2 separate regions of the Homo sapiens genome follow, and region 1 is linked to region 2. The links come from fine-mapping of genetic effects on plasma protein levels. Region 2 holds a variant in brackets. A gene starts in the other region. All regions are shown on their forward strands.

Region 1 (9,275 bases), not on the chromosome of region 2:
AAAGAAGAAAATCCTATCATTTGCAACACTGTGGATGAACCTGGAGGACGTTACACTAAGTGAAATAAGCCAGGCATAGAAAGACAAATACTGCATGATCTCATTCATATGCGGAAGCTAAAAAATTGAACTCATAGAAGTAGAGAGTAGAATGGTGGTTACTGCGGGTTGGGGGATGGAGAAAGTTGGAAGGTATTGGTCAAAGAATACAAAGTTTCAGTTACGCAGGATTAGTAAGTTCTGGAGAGCTAATGTACAGCCTGATGACCATAGTTGATAATAATATATTGTATACTTGAAACTTGCTAAGAGAGTAGATCTTAAATGTTCTCACCACACACAAAAAAAGATAATTATGTGAGATAATGGAGATCAGCTGCATTGAGGCAATCATACCACAATGTATAAGGCTATCCAAAGTCATGTTGTACACCTTAAATATTTAATATATGTATCATTTTATTAGTCAATTATAGCTCAGTAAAACTGGGGAAAAAGAAATTCAGTGATGCATCCATGGATAATCATTATTCTCTGTAAAATATACATTTAAATTAATTTTCCTTTTACATCTTTCTTTTTACTTAGGAGTGAGTAGTTGAGTAAATATCATAAAATAAAACAGATATTAGTTACTTAGGATATACTCACATAGTCAAGAAATCTTCAAATACCCAGATAAAGTAACTGTAGATGCAAAGCCAGAGAGCTGGAACCGGTGTTTCTAAGATTCTGTACTTCCATCAGGGAGATTTAAGGCTAGATATAAAACAGTGTTTACTGAGCTCCTACTTGATTAACAATGAGGATGATTCAAAGACATTTGCCATGAGAATATAACACAAATATACTTTTCACTCTAACTTTATGCAGATCTGTTTTGCTGAACAGTTTTTGATCTAGTCTGAGAAAATTAAATGTTGAGGATTAAATGAGATACCGTGAAGTGACTAGTGGTAGGCCCTCAGTAAATTCCCAATGAAAGGTTGCTATTAATATGATTATCCTGACAACAACCAAATAGAGTAGAGGGCAAGTCCTCCTACTATTATGCTCGTTTTACAGAAGAAGAAACTAAAATCTGTTTTTAAATGTTTAGTACAAGCTGGAGTCAGACTGATAATTGGAATAACCCCTCCAAATGTCTCCCAAGGATAATTCGTAACTCCAGATTTTCAGATGGATATCATCTCCAACTAAGTATGTACAGATTCTTGAGAAATTTGACCAGCCAAAGGTACCTGCATTCTACGACTTGGGATGACAAGCCAGGCTCCCTAACTGTGGGGTACCTCAAATAACCAACCCACTTACGTATTTAGTTTCCTGCTGGTAACATGGAAATTAATACAACTAAAATTTTAGAAGCACCGTCATTTACCAATATACAAATGTCATGTGTTGGGCAATATGTGTGTTGATGAAAAGGTAGAATTTCCTAATATCCTTTTTTTTCTATTCCTTTTACCTATGCAATTCATTGATCTGAGATGTGAAACAGCATGTGTGTCGGAAAAGAGAAAAAAAAGGAGAAAGATGTACAGCTATGAGGGCCACAGAAATTATTACTGAGTGCCTGAAGACACATAGTGTTGAATTAGTGGTATGGCTTATAACCAACTTCTACCATCATCACAGATTATCATAAACTCACAAGGGAAAAGACCAAGAAGAGGCTGGGAAGAGAACCTTACACAAGCTTTTCCATGTGTGACACATCCATAGTCATATGGCTATTAGTGGCCAAGTCAGTACTTTAGACCAGGTCTGACAACAAATCTACTCCTCCATTTCTAGGATATTTAATCAATGTTTCCTTACTCTCCTACCCACTCTTCACATTTCATTCTGAATTGTATGTCAAATAGACCGAAGACTAAGCCAGAGTTAATGTGTTGCTTTACCCATGATAGATAAGCCAAGATTCCCTTTTAATTTTCTTAACATGTTGCTCTCCTGTTGCAAGTAATTTGTGTTTTGATTCGCAAGGACAAACCAGAGAGGGATAAAAAGAAATCAGTACTCTTTGATAAAATTTATATGGAAACAAGAATATATTTCAAGCAGTGTTTTAAACTGCCAAGCATAGAATATAACAAGTGTTGACTTTCCTAAAAGACATTTGAGTAATTCCAACTGCCATTTGGGGTGGGATGGTGGCTGGACAAGATTGAATCATGCAGAGTAAAATAATTTTAAAGTATTCTATTTTCATGTTTAAAACAATATTGTAATGCAAACCATTTATCCATGATGCTAAAAAAAATTCTCACTTTATTTTCGAATGTGGATGCTAAAGATGTGTGCTATGTTTTTTGCTGGTGGCGTTCTTTTTTTATTATTATTATTATTATACTGGTGGCGTTCTACTGAGGGGAGTTTTAAGGTTGTTAGGGGCAGAGACAATGTCACCTACTTCATGTTTTGGGCATGTAGGGAGTTCTCAGTGAACAATGGTCTTGTTAAATCTATAATTAGAGGAAATAAGAATGGCAAGAATAAAATAAAATACTCAGATTTGTTTCTTCCCCATTGCCAGAATCATGTTAGTCACTAGTTTTCTACTTGTTTTTTTGGGAAGAGCTGGTACATTGCCTCCCACATGCATCCGACACTCCTATTACAGCAAAGTATTAGCAACAATATGAATGGCTAACATTTAAAGAGTACCTTCAATATAACAATAACTTTAACCATTTTTAAATATTCTCACATTAATCTGCAAAGCAGAATTTTTTTTTATTGCTCAGTAACCACATAAAATTAACTAGCCTGCAAGATCATACAGCTAGAGAGCAGTATTGTGTGATATTGAAGCACACGGACTACAGTCGTGTATTCAAGACCCAACCCCTCCAATCTCTACCAGAAGTTGCTTTACCTCTCTAAGGTTTCATTTGCTGACTACAAAATACATATTGTAATTTACTCCTTCACATTAGATTCTTGTGAGGATTGAGTGAGATAGTCAATGGAAAGAACTTAGCAAAGTGCTTGAGATATATATATGAATTTGGAATCTCTCCTTCCCCTCCCAAGTCATTGGGAACATAAGTTTACCTCAAAGCATGGAAGCTAGACCCTCCCCACACTAGAGTAATGAACAGCAGTGTTGTCCACAAATCACTCAGAGTTCCTCAGAGAGAAGGACAGTGGTCCCGAGAAGTGCTTCTCAAACTCTATGGACAATCTTTACAACTGGCAATGTCAAAATGTGTATTCTGATTTAGTTGTTATGGGAATGCATAGATTTTATTAGACTGTACTTTAGACAGGGAAGGAATGTCACACAAGTTGTAGACTGTATTGGCCAGGATTTTTCAGAGAAACAGAACCAATAGGATTCATAGAGGTAGATAAGTGAGTTGCAGTTTATTACAGGAATTGGCTCATGTGGTTATGGAGACTGAGAAACCTCAGTCCAGGCCACCTGCAAGCTGGAGAACCAGGAAAGCCAGTAACATGGCACATTCTGAGTCCAAAGGCCTGAGAACCAGGGAAGCCAATAACATCACTCTCAGTCTGAGGTCAAAAGCCTGAGAACCTAGTGAGGGATGTGGAGGTTGTGGGGGCAGACTGGTACAAGCCCCAGAGGCCAAAGCCAGAGAATCTAAAGTTCTAGTCCAAAGGCAGAAGAAGAAAGATGTCCCAGCTCACTAACAGAGACAGAATCCACCTTTCCTCTGCCTTTTTTTCTATCTGGGCCCTCAACCAATTAGTGGTGCCTGCCCACATTGGGTGAGGGCATCTCCTCCCCACTCAGTGCACTGAGTCAAATGCCAATCTCTTCTGGAAACACCCTCACAGATATACCTAAAAATAATGCTTTACTGGTTCTCTGGGTGTTCCTTAGCCCAGTCAAGTAGACACCTAAAATTAAATGTCTCATAGGCAATGTTCAAAAACCAAAAACAAACAAACAAAAAATTGAGACTTTTTTTCTAGACCAGTGTTTCTCAACTTTAGCTGCACATTTGAAAGACCTGGGAAGCTTTGTAAAAAAAAAAAAAAAAAAAAAAATATATATATATATATATATATATATATATATATATATATATATTTAATACAATATCAGCCCAAATGTCATCTCCACCTCCTCTCTCATCAATTGACCAGAGTTTTGGGGATCTTGTTTCAAGTGGTTCTAATGAAAAGCCTGTGGCGGAACTGCTACCCTACCAGTCAACCAGCATCACTCAAAATCTGGTCCAAGTCCTGGTGTGGTCCTGAAACTGTTGCTTGCTGGTTTAAGACGAGATAAGTACTGAAACTGAGAGTAAGTGTATCTTAATCTGTTCAGGCTACTATAGAAGAATAACATAGACTAAGTGACTCATAAACAACAGAAACTTATTTCTCACAGTTCTAGAGACTGAGAAGTCAGAAATCAAGGCACCAGCAGATTCGTTGACTGGTGAAGGCCCATTTCCTGGTTCATAGATGGCACCTTCTCATTATGTCTTCACTTTGTGGAATGGCAAGGCAATAGGGCCTCTTTTTTAAGGGTGCTGATCCCATTCATGAGGGCTCTATCCTTATAATGAAATCACCTTCAAAAGCCCTACCTCCTAATACTATCACATTTATGATTAGGTTTCAACATATGAATTTTGGGTGGACATAAACATTCAGACCATAACAAAGTGTTTAGAAACTTTTATAGCAGTATGACAAATTAAGTTTATTTGTAATCAAATGTAATAATAAAAACAGATGGATTAGTGAAAAAAAAATAGTTGGCTTACAAAGAAATACATTGAAACCCCTTGAATGAATGATCTAAATAATTAAACATATACATCTCTGGAAGTGAGGATATACCAGGCCCCTTCTTTAAGCTGTTATGTCTTAAAGCTGAAATGTTAACTTCAGTGATAAATTCCTCAGGCAGAGCATTGGCACCTGGCTACAACAGGGTTAATGAGCAGGAGTAGGGTAGGTGGGGTCACAAACCAGGAACACATGCCCTCCAAGTTAGATAGCTTTTTTTCCTCTTTAATTGCCGTTTAAACACACATGCTCTCACATAACACAGAAGGTGAGAGCTGAATGAAGTTTTCTGGGTAATGGCATGAAATGTTTTCCTTATGAGAAGTGGTGTTGAGTTACAGCGTGCAGACGGAGAACGGGGAGGAGAGAAACGGCAGTCTCAATCTGGCCCCCACCTTTTCTTGGGCTTGTAGGAAGGTGGACATGGGCTCCCGGAGACAAGACAAGTGATATGTTGAACTGTTCGGTGGCTGGAATCAACTGCTCCTGGAGTGACCTAAGGCCAGTGTTTATCAGAACTTAGCCAGGGCCAGCCAAGCAGGCACAGATGCTCTGCTATGAAATGCCACGCAGGCAGAGACTGACAAGCGGTAGGAACTGAGCTTTCCCCTTGGACTGCTGCTTCCTGCTGTGTTCAGGGGAGGGGGTCACTTTCTGGCAACTCTGCTGCTGCTGCTGCTGCTGCTGCTACTTCAGCTTCCTCTCCACTCAAGGTAAGCAGGCTAAGGGAGGGCAGGCTGCTAGGGAAAGCTTTGTACCATGAACAGGATCCGAAAGTTTTTCCGAGGAAGTGGGCGAGTCTTGGCATTTATCTTTGTAGCTTCTGTCATCTGGCTCCTCTTTGACATGGCAGCTCTCCGCCTCTCATTCAGTGAGATCAACACTCGGGTCATCAAGGAAGACATTGTGAGGAGGGAGCGGATAGGATTCAGAGTTCAGCCAGACCAAGGAAAAATTTTTTACAGCAGCATAAAAGAGATGAAACCTCCCCTAAGGGGACATGGGAAAGGGGCATGGGGCAAAGAGAATGTTAGAAAAACTGAGGAGAGTGTGCTCAAGGTTGAGGTGGACTTGGACCAAACCCAGAGGGAAAGAAAAATGCAGAATGCCCTGGGAAGGGGCAAGGTTGTGCCGTTGTGGCATCCTGCACATCTGCAGACCCTCCCTGTGACTCCTAACAAGCAGAAGACAGACGGGAGAGGCACCAAACCTGAAGCCTCCTCTCACCAGGGGACACCAAAGCAAACGACAGCTCAGGGGGCTCCAAAGACCTCATTCATAGCAGCAAAAGGAACTCAGGTAGTCAAAATATCAGTACACATGGGACGTGTCAGTTTAAAACAGGAGCCCCGGAAGAGTCATAGTCCCAGCAGTGACACATCAAAACTAGCAGCTGAAAGGGACTTGAATGTGACCATCAGTCTTAGTACTGATAGACCAAAGCAGCGATCACAGGCAGTAGCAAACGAGAGGGCACACCCTGCCAGCACAGCAGTGCCGAAGTCTGGGGAAGCCATGGCCTTAAACAAAACTAAGACTCAGAGCAAAGAAGTCAATGCAAATAAACACAAAGCCAATACGAGTCTTCCTTTTCCTAAGTTCACTGTCAATTCAAATCGCTTAAGGAAGCAATCTATTAATGAGACACCTTTGGGAAGTTTGTCAAAGGATGATGGAGCTAGAGGGGCTCATGGGAAGAAACTCAATTTCTCTGAAAGCCATCTTGTGATTATAACCAAAGAGGAAGAGCAAAAGGCAGACCCCAAAGAGGTCTCTAATTCTAAAACCAAAACAATATTTCCTAAAGTATTGGGTAAAAGCCAAAGTAAACACATTTCCAGGAATAGAAGTGAGATGTCTTCCTCTTCACTTGCTCCACATAGAGTGCCACTGTCCCAAACTAACCATGCTTTAACTGGAGGGCTAGAGCCAGCAAAAATCAACATAACTGCCAAAGCCCCCTCTACAGAATACAACCAGAGTCATATAAAAGCCCTTTTACCTGAAGACAGTGGAACGCACCAGGTGTTAAGAATTGATGTGACACTTTCTCCAAGGGACCCCAAAGCTCCAGGGCAGTTTGGGCGTCCTGTAGTTGTCCCCCATGGAAAGGAGAAGGAGGCAGAAAGAAGATGGAAAGAAGGAAACTTCAATGTCTACCTTAGCGATTTGATCCCAGTGGATAGAGCCATTGAAGACACCAGACCTGCTGGGTAAGACCTATTTCTCTTCTCTTTCCTCAACCCCAAGTGCTTTGGCTGTTATGTAAAGAGGATTTATTGCTAGATAATTCTGTGTGATTTTTGGTCACCTAGAGAATTAAAGAAACATTAATCATTGGATATCATTCAAATATTTCACCAGCTACAGAGACAAAAATTCTCTTATTAGCAGTTGCAGAGTTCTTGTTCTCTGAGACTTTGGTCCCTACCATTAGCTCATGTTCAATTTTCTTCCCTCTGTTGAAAACCTATTAAAATGATTAGATGAACTCAGTTCATAATAACGTGTATATAAATGGTAGAGCTTAAAGTGTAATTCCATTAGAATAGTGACAATGAAGTGAATTCCCAATTTTGGAACTTTTCATTATTAGCAAGTTTGTCAGGAATATATTTGGGAAAGAAGCACACAGAAGGACTCTTCTAGGCCTCCCTGGAATCATATCTTAACCAGCAGAATTCTGCCTAATCATAAGTAATGATAAGCAGGATAGCAAGAGAAGTGACTTTACTCCCTAAAATTTAATCTCCTTTATAGGTGGAGATGGTAGATATTTCAGGAGATCAGTTACATAGGAATCATAATGTTGGAAAAAGTCAATCAGTCCATGACCAGCAAACACCTACAGGAGGTATAAAAAGCATAATAATAATCACTTATATTTGTAGACATTCACTATTTACAAAGAGCCTGCATACACATAGATGAACTCCATATGAGCCCTGCAAAGGAGGAGGCAGTCATTATGGTTCAAATTAACAAGCTGGCGAGGGCGCTCAGAAGTTACAACACTTTCTCAAGGTAATGCAGTTCTAAAGCTGCCCAATGGGCCTTCAGTAACCAGTCCTTCAAAAAGTTAAATTCCTATAACTATATCACCAGATGTGGATCAAAACATAGATATTTAATCTGATTCAAATATAATTGGGTTCCTGGCATTTTTTTTCTTGGCCCACTGATAAGTGAAGGTACTCAACAGCCGTATGTTCAATATCTGTTAACTCAGTTCCCTAAGTCAAACAATATTTGCCAGGAAGTTGGATTGGGGAATGTCAAGATTGAGACTTAGCACATGTGGCATGTAAACAATGGCCTTGTTTGGCTTCTGTAGAAAATTCTTCTTTGTGATCTAGGTAGTCAGCATTACATTTTAGTCAGTGTTACTAGGAGGAAGGCAGATACAGGAGAAGCTTTATCCACATTAGAAAGAAGAGTCTCTTCATTGTGATGTCGGCTACAACCAGGTCGTTTTCCATCTCTTAGCCATCAGCAAACAGCTATCAGCCATGCACTGCTTATACCAAGCACTGTGCCATTCACGCTTCTCACCCTGGTGATAATCACAGTCTTGAGGAGAATGCAGACATACTCAAAGATGAGGAAACTGAGGCCCTGGGATGCTAGATTGCCTGTGGTCACAAAGCTAGTCATTGTAGAGAAATGATTAAAATTCATGCTCAAAATTATTCTGCACTCTCTTCCATCTCTTGCCAATCTCCCCTCAAAAAGGATCCTAAAAATTGTGTTGGCCCAGCTCTAATCTAAAGTCCTGTGTATCACAGGATTACACATGCCAGCTTTGAACACAAAGTGCAAGGAAATGAAGTAGCCGTTAAAGCAGTTTCATTTTAACATGCCCTTATTGACCTGGCAGGCTGCTAGGGAGTCTGGGGAGGAATTAGACACTGCACAGAAGCACAAGCTCCAGTTCCAAACCAGAGAAAAGGCACATGCGTGGCGGGGGTGGGGGTGCTCAAAGCAAGTAATAACGATGTTATCACTAGTGTGGCTCATTGAAAGCTCGGGGACTCCCAGTGCTTCTTAGTTTCTATACTTTGTTCTGTAGAAGTTAAGCATTGCAGCCCAGGAAAGTTACAGTCAGGCTCTGTCTTCTGAAGGAGGTTGTCCCAACTGTAGGAAAAATTGACACATGTGCTTGAGAGGATGAGTCAGAGAGCATGTGGCCAGGCCTCCTCCCTCTTATCACATAACCCACCTTGGCTAAATATAGGTGTGTCTCAAGCTGCCTGGCGGATGCTACGCTCCACTCAGGGGTCTACCACCAGGGATCCTGGACCTGGGGCCTCCCAAAGTATTTTTCAGTCCTTTTGTAGTCCTCTTCTTTGAAAGAGGATAAATCATTTTTTGTTCTTTTACCCAAACACCTTGACTATAAATATGTGTAAATTATGTATTCATATAGATAAAGGTTAAAGAAAATACAATCAAAAAACATTTGATTCATCAGTTTGGCAAGATTTGGAGTGTTTTTTGTTTTT
Region 2 (9,275 bases):
CTGAATACCCATTTGCATCTTTATATTTTAAATTAGCTGAATATATTACCTACCCAGAAGATAAATAAAAATTTGGAAATAAAGCAAAATCTAAATAGAAGCCAGATGATAGAGAGGGTAGAAACTTGAGTCCTACAGAACCAGTTTGGCTGAAGAGCATGCTGTCATTAGGCCATCAGCCAACAGTGCATCCTGTTAAGTGAGAAGACAACATAGAACTTACTATATGGACGATATTCGTAATCACTTTACACAGGATCCTCTAAACCAGTGCTTCTCAAACTGTCTGCAGTAAAGAACTAGTTATTGTCAGCATCCTCATTTTAAATTTCTAATCCATCATGAACTGGTTCTTTTGTAAAATACAACTGAAGGTGAGTTACTAAAAAAAAATGATTAGATGTAAATGTCTCAGGAACTTGCTATAAAAGCTTCTAAATTTACTCTCATTTTCTGTACTTACCTTGTCACAGACCAGTAACAAACAGAGCACCGACCACACCAGTTAAAAGACCACACCTCCTGGGCACCAACTTAAACCAGAAACTTTAAAAAAAAATTCCCTCTGATTTCAGTATCATGAATATTGCTCCTGAGCAGCCGGGTCACTTCCGTTTTCTTCAAATGTCATAAATTATACAACTACAGGTTAAGCATCCCTAATCTGAAAATCCAAAATGTCCCCAAATCCAAAACTTTTTTAGTGTCAACATGGCACCAGAAGTGGAAAATTCCACCCCTCTGGTCCCAAGCATTTCAGATAAGGGATATTCAACCTATAATGGTGACAATGAAGATGATGTCAACACTGCAGAAAAAGTGCCCAGAGACAACATGTTGAAAATGTGTGAAGGGCTTATTCAAGGGCTAGGGCAGTGTGCATTCACAATAAAACATGAAATCCTGTCAGTGTATAAAATCAAAGACTTGTAAGACAAAAATCATGGCTAATGAGGCAGATGACTCCGGAGGAAACATCTTTAAAAGCCATCCAGCAGAACGCCTCCTTATCCCTAGAGGACTCAATTTCCCGGTCCTTCAATACTTCTGATGTTTCTTTTCACCCACCAAACACAAGATACAGGTACGGTAACCTTTTAGTCAACACAAGGCCTCACAGATGGAGACGGAAAGCCTGCTGCTGTGTGCTGTTGCTGTGGTTTAGCAGCTGGTACAGATGTCTGGTGATGCTCTGTGCTGCTTGGTTACCCTGACACTTATTTTCTCGCTGTAATAATGGCATGTCATATTTTTTACTGTTAAGTGCTTTAATGTGAATAGATGTGAGACAATAATTGCTTATACGTAGCATATAAATTCAGCCTCAAGAAGGATGGGGATGCCAGACAACTACAGACTGTCCACATGGGTGGCTCAGATAGAGTCACCTTCACTTTCTGACAGTTCAATGTACACAAACTTTGCTACACACATAAAATTACTTAATGTGTTGTATAAAATTACCTTCGGGCTATGTGTTTAAGGTATATATGAAGATAAACAAATTTCATGTTTAAACTTGGGTCCCACCCCCAAGATTTGTATATACATTTCTCTACGTATATGAAAATATTTCAAAATCGGAAAAAAAAAAAATCTGAAACACTTGTGCTCCCAAGCACTTCAGATAAGGGATACTCAACCTGTACTTGTATGTCCCTGTTTGATAATGGTAATAAAGCTGTGGCCTTCTAAGAAGGGATGTACAAGCTCAGGCACAGTGGTTCACACCTGGAATCCAAGCATTTGGGGAGGCCAACGTGGGAAGATCACTTGAGATTAGGAGTTCACAACCAGCGTGGGGAATACAGCAAGACCCCGTCTATACAGAAATTTTTTAATTAGCCAGGCATGGTAATGTACACCTGTAGTACATTACCACAAGTAATGTACTCCTCAGGAGACTGAGGTGGGAGGATTGCTTGAATCTAAGAGTTTGAGGTTACAGGAGCCACTGTACTCCAGCCTAGGCAACAGAGCAAGAAGCAACACCCAATCTCAAACAAATAAACAAAAAAACACAAAATTGTGGCTCAAAGATTACCTCTCAGCTTTATTCCTGGCTTCACGTAGAATTCCAGTTCTCACTTGTAATATCATGATTTATCCATCTGTTTTGACTTCAATTGCATTTTATTATTTTAATCAAGCTCCCTTAAACACAATATTACATTACTTAAAGTAGTGTCATCTAAAATGTTCTTTTTTTTTTTGAGACGGAGTCTTGCTCTGTCACCCAGGCTAGAGTGCGGTGGCGCAATCTCGGCTCACTGCAAGCTCCGCCTCCCGGCCTCCCGGGTTCACACCATTCTCCTGCCTCAGCCTCCAGAGTAGCTGGGACTACAGGCACCCGCCACCACGACCGGCTAATTTTTTGTATTTTTAGTAGAGACGGGGTTTCACCGTGTTAGCTAGGATGGTCTCCATATCCTGACCTCGTGATCCGACTGCCTCGGCCTCCCAAAGTGCTGGGATTACAGGAGTGAGCCACCATGCCCGGCCTTAAAATGTTCTTTTAACAAAGGGATTTTAGTGAATTTTGCAACATGAGTAAATGAATTAATGAGAATATCATATTCACATTATAGCAGTCCCAAGCAAAAAGAAAACAAACAACAACGAAAAAAGAAAATACTCTCAGAATGTGCCATGGGGTATAAAAGAAGAAAAAGAAGACAATCTGTGGCCACTGCCCACAGGGGCAACAGGAAACTTGGTGCTGCCCCTTTAAGAAGCCGCCAGGTCAGTGGGAAGAAAAAGAGAAAATGAAAGTCAAAGGGCCGTAAAGAAACAGGTTTTCTTAAATAGGAAATACAAAAATTAAACAGTAATTCTACCTAAATTATTCTCCAAAATAATGAAAAGCAACAATGTTTCAGTCTAGGCTCCCCTGCATGGAGGTGATTAGCTGGAAGCGACTAGTATGCTGAAGTCTGATAATGACAGCTTTTACACACTGTCACCAAATTACGATGCAAATTCTATGGAAATCATTAGACCAGCACTCACTGTAAGAAGTATGATCTGGGATTGAGTTTTGGAGCTTCTCAGAGGTTTACTCCGATCCTGTCAATCTGACTGCAGAGCTGCTTTCCCTAGGCGTCTAAAATGCTCTCCTGGGGTTAGAGACCACACCCTGGTGCAGTGAATGGGATTCCTCCAATTCCAAATGGCTCCAAAACCTCTGCTTTCTCCCTCAACTGCTTCCATTCTCACTGCTTATCTCCGACCCTTTGGCCCAAATGTCTCCATTCATTCGGTGCCTCATTACACAATTATTGGGTACTCATCAGGTGCTTAAGCACTGGTGAATGTAAACAATAGAAGCTTGGTCCTTGAGGCATACTGATTCTGTTAGGCAATTTAAGAATACTCACAGCAAAGGGGGAATACTGTAATAGACGCAATTACCAGCCAATTAGGAACAAAAAAAGGAAATGCTGTACTAAGAAATGCTGTGCTGCTTGAGAAGGTCAGGGCAGGCTGAGAGTGGAGCACAGGATGAGTGGCAGGTTTCCAGGCGGTCAGTAGGCACCACAGTAGGTGTGGGGGAAATCTGGACAGATACAAACACGAGCAACATTGAGAAAGACAGTGAGGCAGTTAATTTTGTGTGCTAACTAGGATATGCCAACCAGACTTGGTCAAACACCTGCCTAGATGTTGCTCTGAAGGCTATTTTTTAGATGTGATTAACATTTAAATCAGTACACTGAGTAATACTCCCTACAATGTGAGTGGGCTTCATCCACTCAAAGACATTACCCAGGAGGAACAACTAATTCTGCCTCCAAGCGGCCTAGATGTTGGACTGGAGCTGCAACATCAACTCTTTCCTGTGTCTCTAGCTTGCCAGCCAGCCCTGCAAATCTCAGACTTGCCAGCCCCCACAATGACATGAACCAATTCCTTCAAATCAATCAATCAATCAATCAATCAATCAATAGCGCGCTCTCTCTCTCTCTATATATATATACACACATATATATATATCCATATCCATCCATCCCACTGGTTCTGTTTCTCCAGAGAACCATGACTAATGTGGATATGGTGAATTCAAGAAACTATCCGTACAAAATGGCTGGGTTACAAAACACACACAAGCCAGGGGGCATGTGGTGCAAAGGCAGGAAAGTGCTAGTCACAAAGGCACTGGGACACTGGAGAGTTTACACTCCCCCCAGGGCAAGAGAGAGCCACCAATAGTTTAAGCTGAGGAGCGACCATCTGACATGATCAGATGGTCACTCCAGCTAAAACTCACTGGCAGCAAATGAATG[G/GA]AAAAAAAAAAGACTGGAAGCAGAAGACCAGGTAGGAGGTTACTATAACAGCCCAGGCAGGACAAGGTAACTGATGTGGGCAAGGAAAGGACAAGAGATGACACCGCTACCAAAGCTATGCTAGTGGGGTAAAATCAGCAGGACCTGCTGGTGAAGACATGAGGAGTGAGGGGAAAGGAGGACGATAGGATGACTCCAAGATTTCTGACTTTGGCTCCCAAATGGATTGTGGTCCTGCTTTGAAATAGGGTGGGGAAAAACACAGAGATGATAGAAGGGAGGGACATGTGGAGTAGGAGATGTCTATGAAATACCTACATGGAAATGTTGAGGCATTTGGAACTCAGGGTCTGGAACTCAGGAAACAAATCTGGACTGGAGACAAGGCTTTGGGATTCACAAGGGAAGAGTGACTGCAGTTGTAGACATAGAAAGTGAACAAAGTAGGAGAGAGTCAGGAATGGTATGTTAAGACACACTAACCTGCAAGGGTGGGCAGAACAATGCACTGACAAAGAGGTACAAGGAAAACCAGCAGAGGAGGGAAAATCAAGAGGAAAAGTGACAGTGATAACACACGCCAACAAAGCAAGTAAGACAAGGACTGAAGTTGCAGGGTTTAGCCGTGAAAGGTAATTTAGAAGATCTTATATAACAACAGTTTAGGGTAGGATGGGGAAAGCAACCAAATATAATGAGTTGAACAGTCCTTAAGAGATAAGAAAATGGACATAGTGACTGAAGCCACTGGGCTGTGAAACAAAGGCTGGGGGAATAATGAGAAAGATACTGACAGCCCGTTGTGGAACCCTAGAAATTATCCACCCTTATTGACACAGGTGTTGGGTTACTGTGCTTCATCTTTAATTCAGCTCTGTTGCAGGGATCCCTAATGCAGAACACTGACCACAGGGCCACAATGACTTCTGGACATTAGACTCAGACAACTTGGCATTTTCAGTTTGGTGATGATGTTGGAAACTGTTTTCAATTTGCAACCTAATTGCTTCCCAAATAAAGATCTCAATGATGCTTCTCATAGGAGAAATACATATATTCTAAAGAGTGCACTGAGTAGTTTTTAGCTATTTTACATATAATTTTATAGTTATAGGAGCGAAGATCAGTGATCAGAAATATTTTATGTACAAGTTTGGTATTATGTCTCAGAGAAAAAAAATCATAAGTATAGCATTTGTTAATGAACACCAAGTACCTTCATAAAAACATGTTTATTTGAACATGCAAATAAGAGTTAGTTGTTTACTCTCATCAAAATTATAGCGTGTCTTCAGGAAAAGAATTCTAGGTCAAAGCAGACTAATGTTCAGGACAGCCAAGAGTAAAACATTAATGAATATTTATTAATATTATGTGCCAGACACTGTGTCCTTCAACCCTCACCTATGGCTAGTACCATTATCCTCACTTTACAAAAGAGAAAACTGAGGCACAGAGAGGCTGAATAATTACTTGAAAGTCACAGAACTGAGAACTGGCAGAGAGGAGATTTGAACGCACGTACGTCCACACGATGTCAGACGCTACCTGAGATGAACAGTAAGCCTTGGCCGGGCATGGTGGCTCAGGCCTGTAACCTCAGCACTTTGGGAAGCCGAGGTGGGTGGATCGCTTGGGCCCAGGAATTCAAGACCAGCCTGGGCAACATGGTGAAACCTCGTTTCTATAAAAAATACAAAAAAAAAAAAAAATTAGCTGGGCATGGTAGTGCACAACTGTGGTCCCAGCTACTCGGGAGGCTGAGGCAGAAGTATTGTCTGAGCTGGGGAGGTCAAGGCTTCAGTAAGCCAAGACTGCACCACCGCACTCCATCCTGAGTAACCAAGCAAGACCCTGTCTCAATAAATAAACAAACAAACAAATAAATAAGCCTTTATCCTATGATCTCATTAAAGACAGAGGTGCCCCCTAACTTGCCCTTTAACTTGCAGTCTTGATCCCTGCAACAAAGCTGAACTAAAGATGAAGTGCAATACCAAACTGCTCCCTAACTTGTACCTTCTCCTGCTCCTATGCCACAGCTCTCTTCCATAAGTTCATTCTGAAGAGTCCTAGGCTGTTCTATGCAAATGACGAATCATTTGCCAACCCTTAGATTTTCCGGCTTGCATCCGGATCAGTGTGTTGGCTGTAAACCAACCAACACAGATGATCAATATTACAGCACAAAGGAAGTAAAAAGCCTTTGTGATTATCCAGTAAGCTAGGGATCAGAAAAGAATGATTGCAAAATCCTAACGTACAGTAGAATAAGGAAATGTTTCCAGGTATTTGTCAGAAAAGGGCCAGCTTCCATCTGGACCATGACCTACAAACAACATTAATGCTCCTAACAGAACTATTTAAATAAGATTCCACTGTTTGTTCTCTGAAATCTCCTGGGACACAATGACTACCTAGAAGGTAATCAGACCTCGACCACAGGAGAGCCAAGGACTGCCATTCCAGCTTTCCTGCCATTCTCACTTCCTGGCAGGTGAACTCTGCTCCCATTCCAGCCCCTGAAAGCCTAACCTAAGAAAAGAAAAAAAGAGAGAGGAATAGAAAAGAAAAAACTGTGAAAAGAAAGAAATGAAATAGAGGCAGAAAACAAAGAGGAGGGAGAAAGGAAACAATTACACTAGAGGTAGTTTCTGCTAGACCAACACTGAGCCAGGCCATCCCAGTTTTCACTCTCTTCTGGACACTCACCAACAATATACTTTAATTTTGTCAAAACTGCCTTTGGGTGAGGCATCCTGATTCCTGGGTAGAAATAACATGAAACCCGTGAAGTCAGAGACTCTTCTATAGTAGAGACCCAGAATGCAGTTCACTAATTTTGAAAGAATTTGTCAGAGCTGTAGGAGACCTGTGAGATCATGATTGCTGTTCCCATCTAAGAGTTAGATTCTGCCTATGATAACTGTCCATAAGGGCAACATTCCAACTAAATTTTCGCATTACTGTGTGCTACAATTAATTTTTTTAATCCAGTTAATAAAGTGCTTTCACAGAGTATATCATTAACAAAAGTTAATCGATAAATACTCCAGAGCAATAGCCCCAACAACAGAGATATTATAACCCTCCTATCAGAATACACAGAAATGGAATATGAGTATCTGGAAATGCAAACTTCAGCAAACATCACAGGAATTTTTTTAAGTGTTTGCATATAACATGTCAAAAACTAATGAACTCTGATTCTACTAGCATTTACTCTCCTAAATTCTATCACTCAAAATAATATGAAACCATTAAAAACACCTAACATGTGAACTAAAATATACACACAAATGTCTATGACAATCATAATAGGAGGTGCTAAGCTGGTTAACTAACAAGATCTCTTGAGGCTGGGATTTTCCTCACCCTAGACCCCCAGATGCATTCATCCCTGGAGTCCCTCGTACTCAATCAGTACTTGATGACTCTGAAAGAATCATCCAGGAATGATTCCAGATGGAATTTAAGTTCCATATCCAACTCAAGGCCAGTAACATTTGCTGAAAAGCAGTGAAGTCAATCAGTAACAAGTTAGTCAAAACAATGAAGAAAAGATAATGCAGGCAGTAATTACTTCTGAGTGGTGGGATTGCGGGTGTTGTTTTTTTTCCCCCTGAAACTTTATATCCTCCTATACTTCCAATTTTTCAATAGTGAACATTATTTTTACTATTCTGAATAAATGTTAAGGAAAAAAGTTTATGAAATATATATATTTCCATATATATGTCATATATATATATAAAATGTTTCAAGTCACTACTACGGTCCCCATAAATGAATGGTTCTCAACCACAACACCTCACTTTTCAAACACCTCAGAATGTTTCTAAAAACAGCCAGCTCCAAGTTCTACCCTAAGCCCACTGAACTGCATAGAAGAGCCAAGAGTTATTCAACCTGCCCAAGTAATTCTATTACACCACCAACATCAGAACCATGCTTTATGGATGCTTCAACTACAAATGGCAAGTTTCTTATCTTTGGAGAGGACTGAAATCAAAGGTCAGAACATCAACAAAAAAGCAAAGTATTCTTTTGGAACAAGCTCCATATCTAGAGAAACAGCTGATTCTAGTGAGAATTTCAGTAGTTCCTAGAGAGTGACTGTGGAAAAGGCAAGCACAGCAGGAGACACCTGAGATTGCACTGGATGCAGGGAGTGAGGTGCCAATTGTGGCTGGAACTATAGGAAGGAGCGGGCAGGCCAGAGCTGTTTCCCTGGGATTCCAGAACAGAAGGCTGTGCCACACAGAGGTCCCCTGGGTCACAATAGCAGCTGAATCTCAGTGGCCATGACAGCAAGGCAACAACGGGGCCAGCTCCCCAAGGTCCATGTAAGTGCAGCTGCCCAGGACTCCCCTTGCTGTCCAGACATAGGCTCTCCTACCTGCTTCCAACTTCAGTTCTGTGGCATTTCCAGGAAATATGGGTAGTTAACACATAACCATGCTCAATGAGAGCCAACCTGTGGCTGTGCGGCCCTTTCTCGGCACGTGGCCCAAGCCTGTGCTGGGTCTACGCAGTGAAGTACAAGGTAAAAAGAAGGCAAGCAGCTTCTTACACCTCCCTCCCAGTGCTGAACCTAGACAAAATGTACCCCTCTTAGCACCTTTAGGAACTTTTCCTAGAGAAACAAGAATGGCAGGCACCTATCTGAGTGTGCTTGGTTCCTCTTGGATATAAAGTGCAAGCCTGTGTCACCTTCTGTGTCACTCAGGATTAAACGTTTATGACATCCCACCACTGATCTAAAAGGATCCACTCACAGAGGAAAATGAAGACTGAAAAGCCAACACCAACACCACCCTTCTGTGCTTCTCAGCACTTCTGGGCCTTCACGTCCTCCTTTTCCTCCCCCACCTTTATAAGCACTCTCCTTTTCTTCAATATACACTCCAAACCCTCTCCGTCCCACCTTAAGTGATCTGCCTTGAGCTGAGCCCGTTTTTTAAACAGGTAAAACTGCTTTTAAGAGAAAGA

Which allele goes with the higher level. Alleles are on the strand shown, and positions count from the first base shown. The strength of an association depends on the size of the effect and on how common the allele is.
For the plasma level of the protein whose gene starts at base 5,155 in region 1, allele GA in region 2 goes with a lower level than allele G (weak association).

What was found. PIP is the posterior inclusion probability: the model's chance that the variant is causal. Protein levels are from antibody-based Olink assays in UK Biobank. Linkage for the fine-mapping came from a reference panel and not from the study's own genotypes, which makes the PIPs less certain.
Region 1: GALNT5 starts here. The variant in region 2 is fine-mapped to the plasma level of the GALNT5 protein (UK Biobank, PIP 0.91).

Annotation. Positions count from the first base shown.
Region 1 is chr2:157,252,551-157,261,825 of GRCh38, forward strand. GALNT5 (polypeptide N-acetylgalactosaminyltransferase 5) reads left to right here and starts at 5,155. Exons shown (of 10, transcript NM_014568.3): 1 at 5,155-6,986. The coding sequence starts at 5,533.
Region 2 is chr6:2,219,186-2,228,460 of GRCh38, forward strand. All of the region lies in intron 1 of GMDS (GDP-mannose 4,6-dehydratase), which reads right to left. Among named protein-coding and RNA genes, the nearest start is that of GMDS, 22 kb to the right of the region's middle. RefSeq lists enhancers at 2,757-2,826, 2,993-3,610 and a silencer at 7,570-7,864. The variant G/GA (reference allele first, on the strand shown) is at 4,284.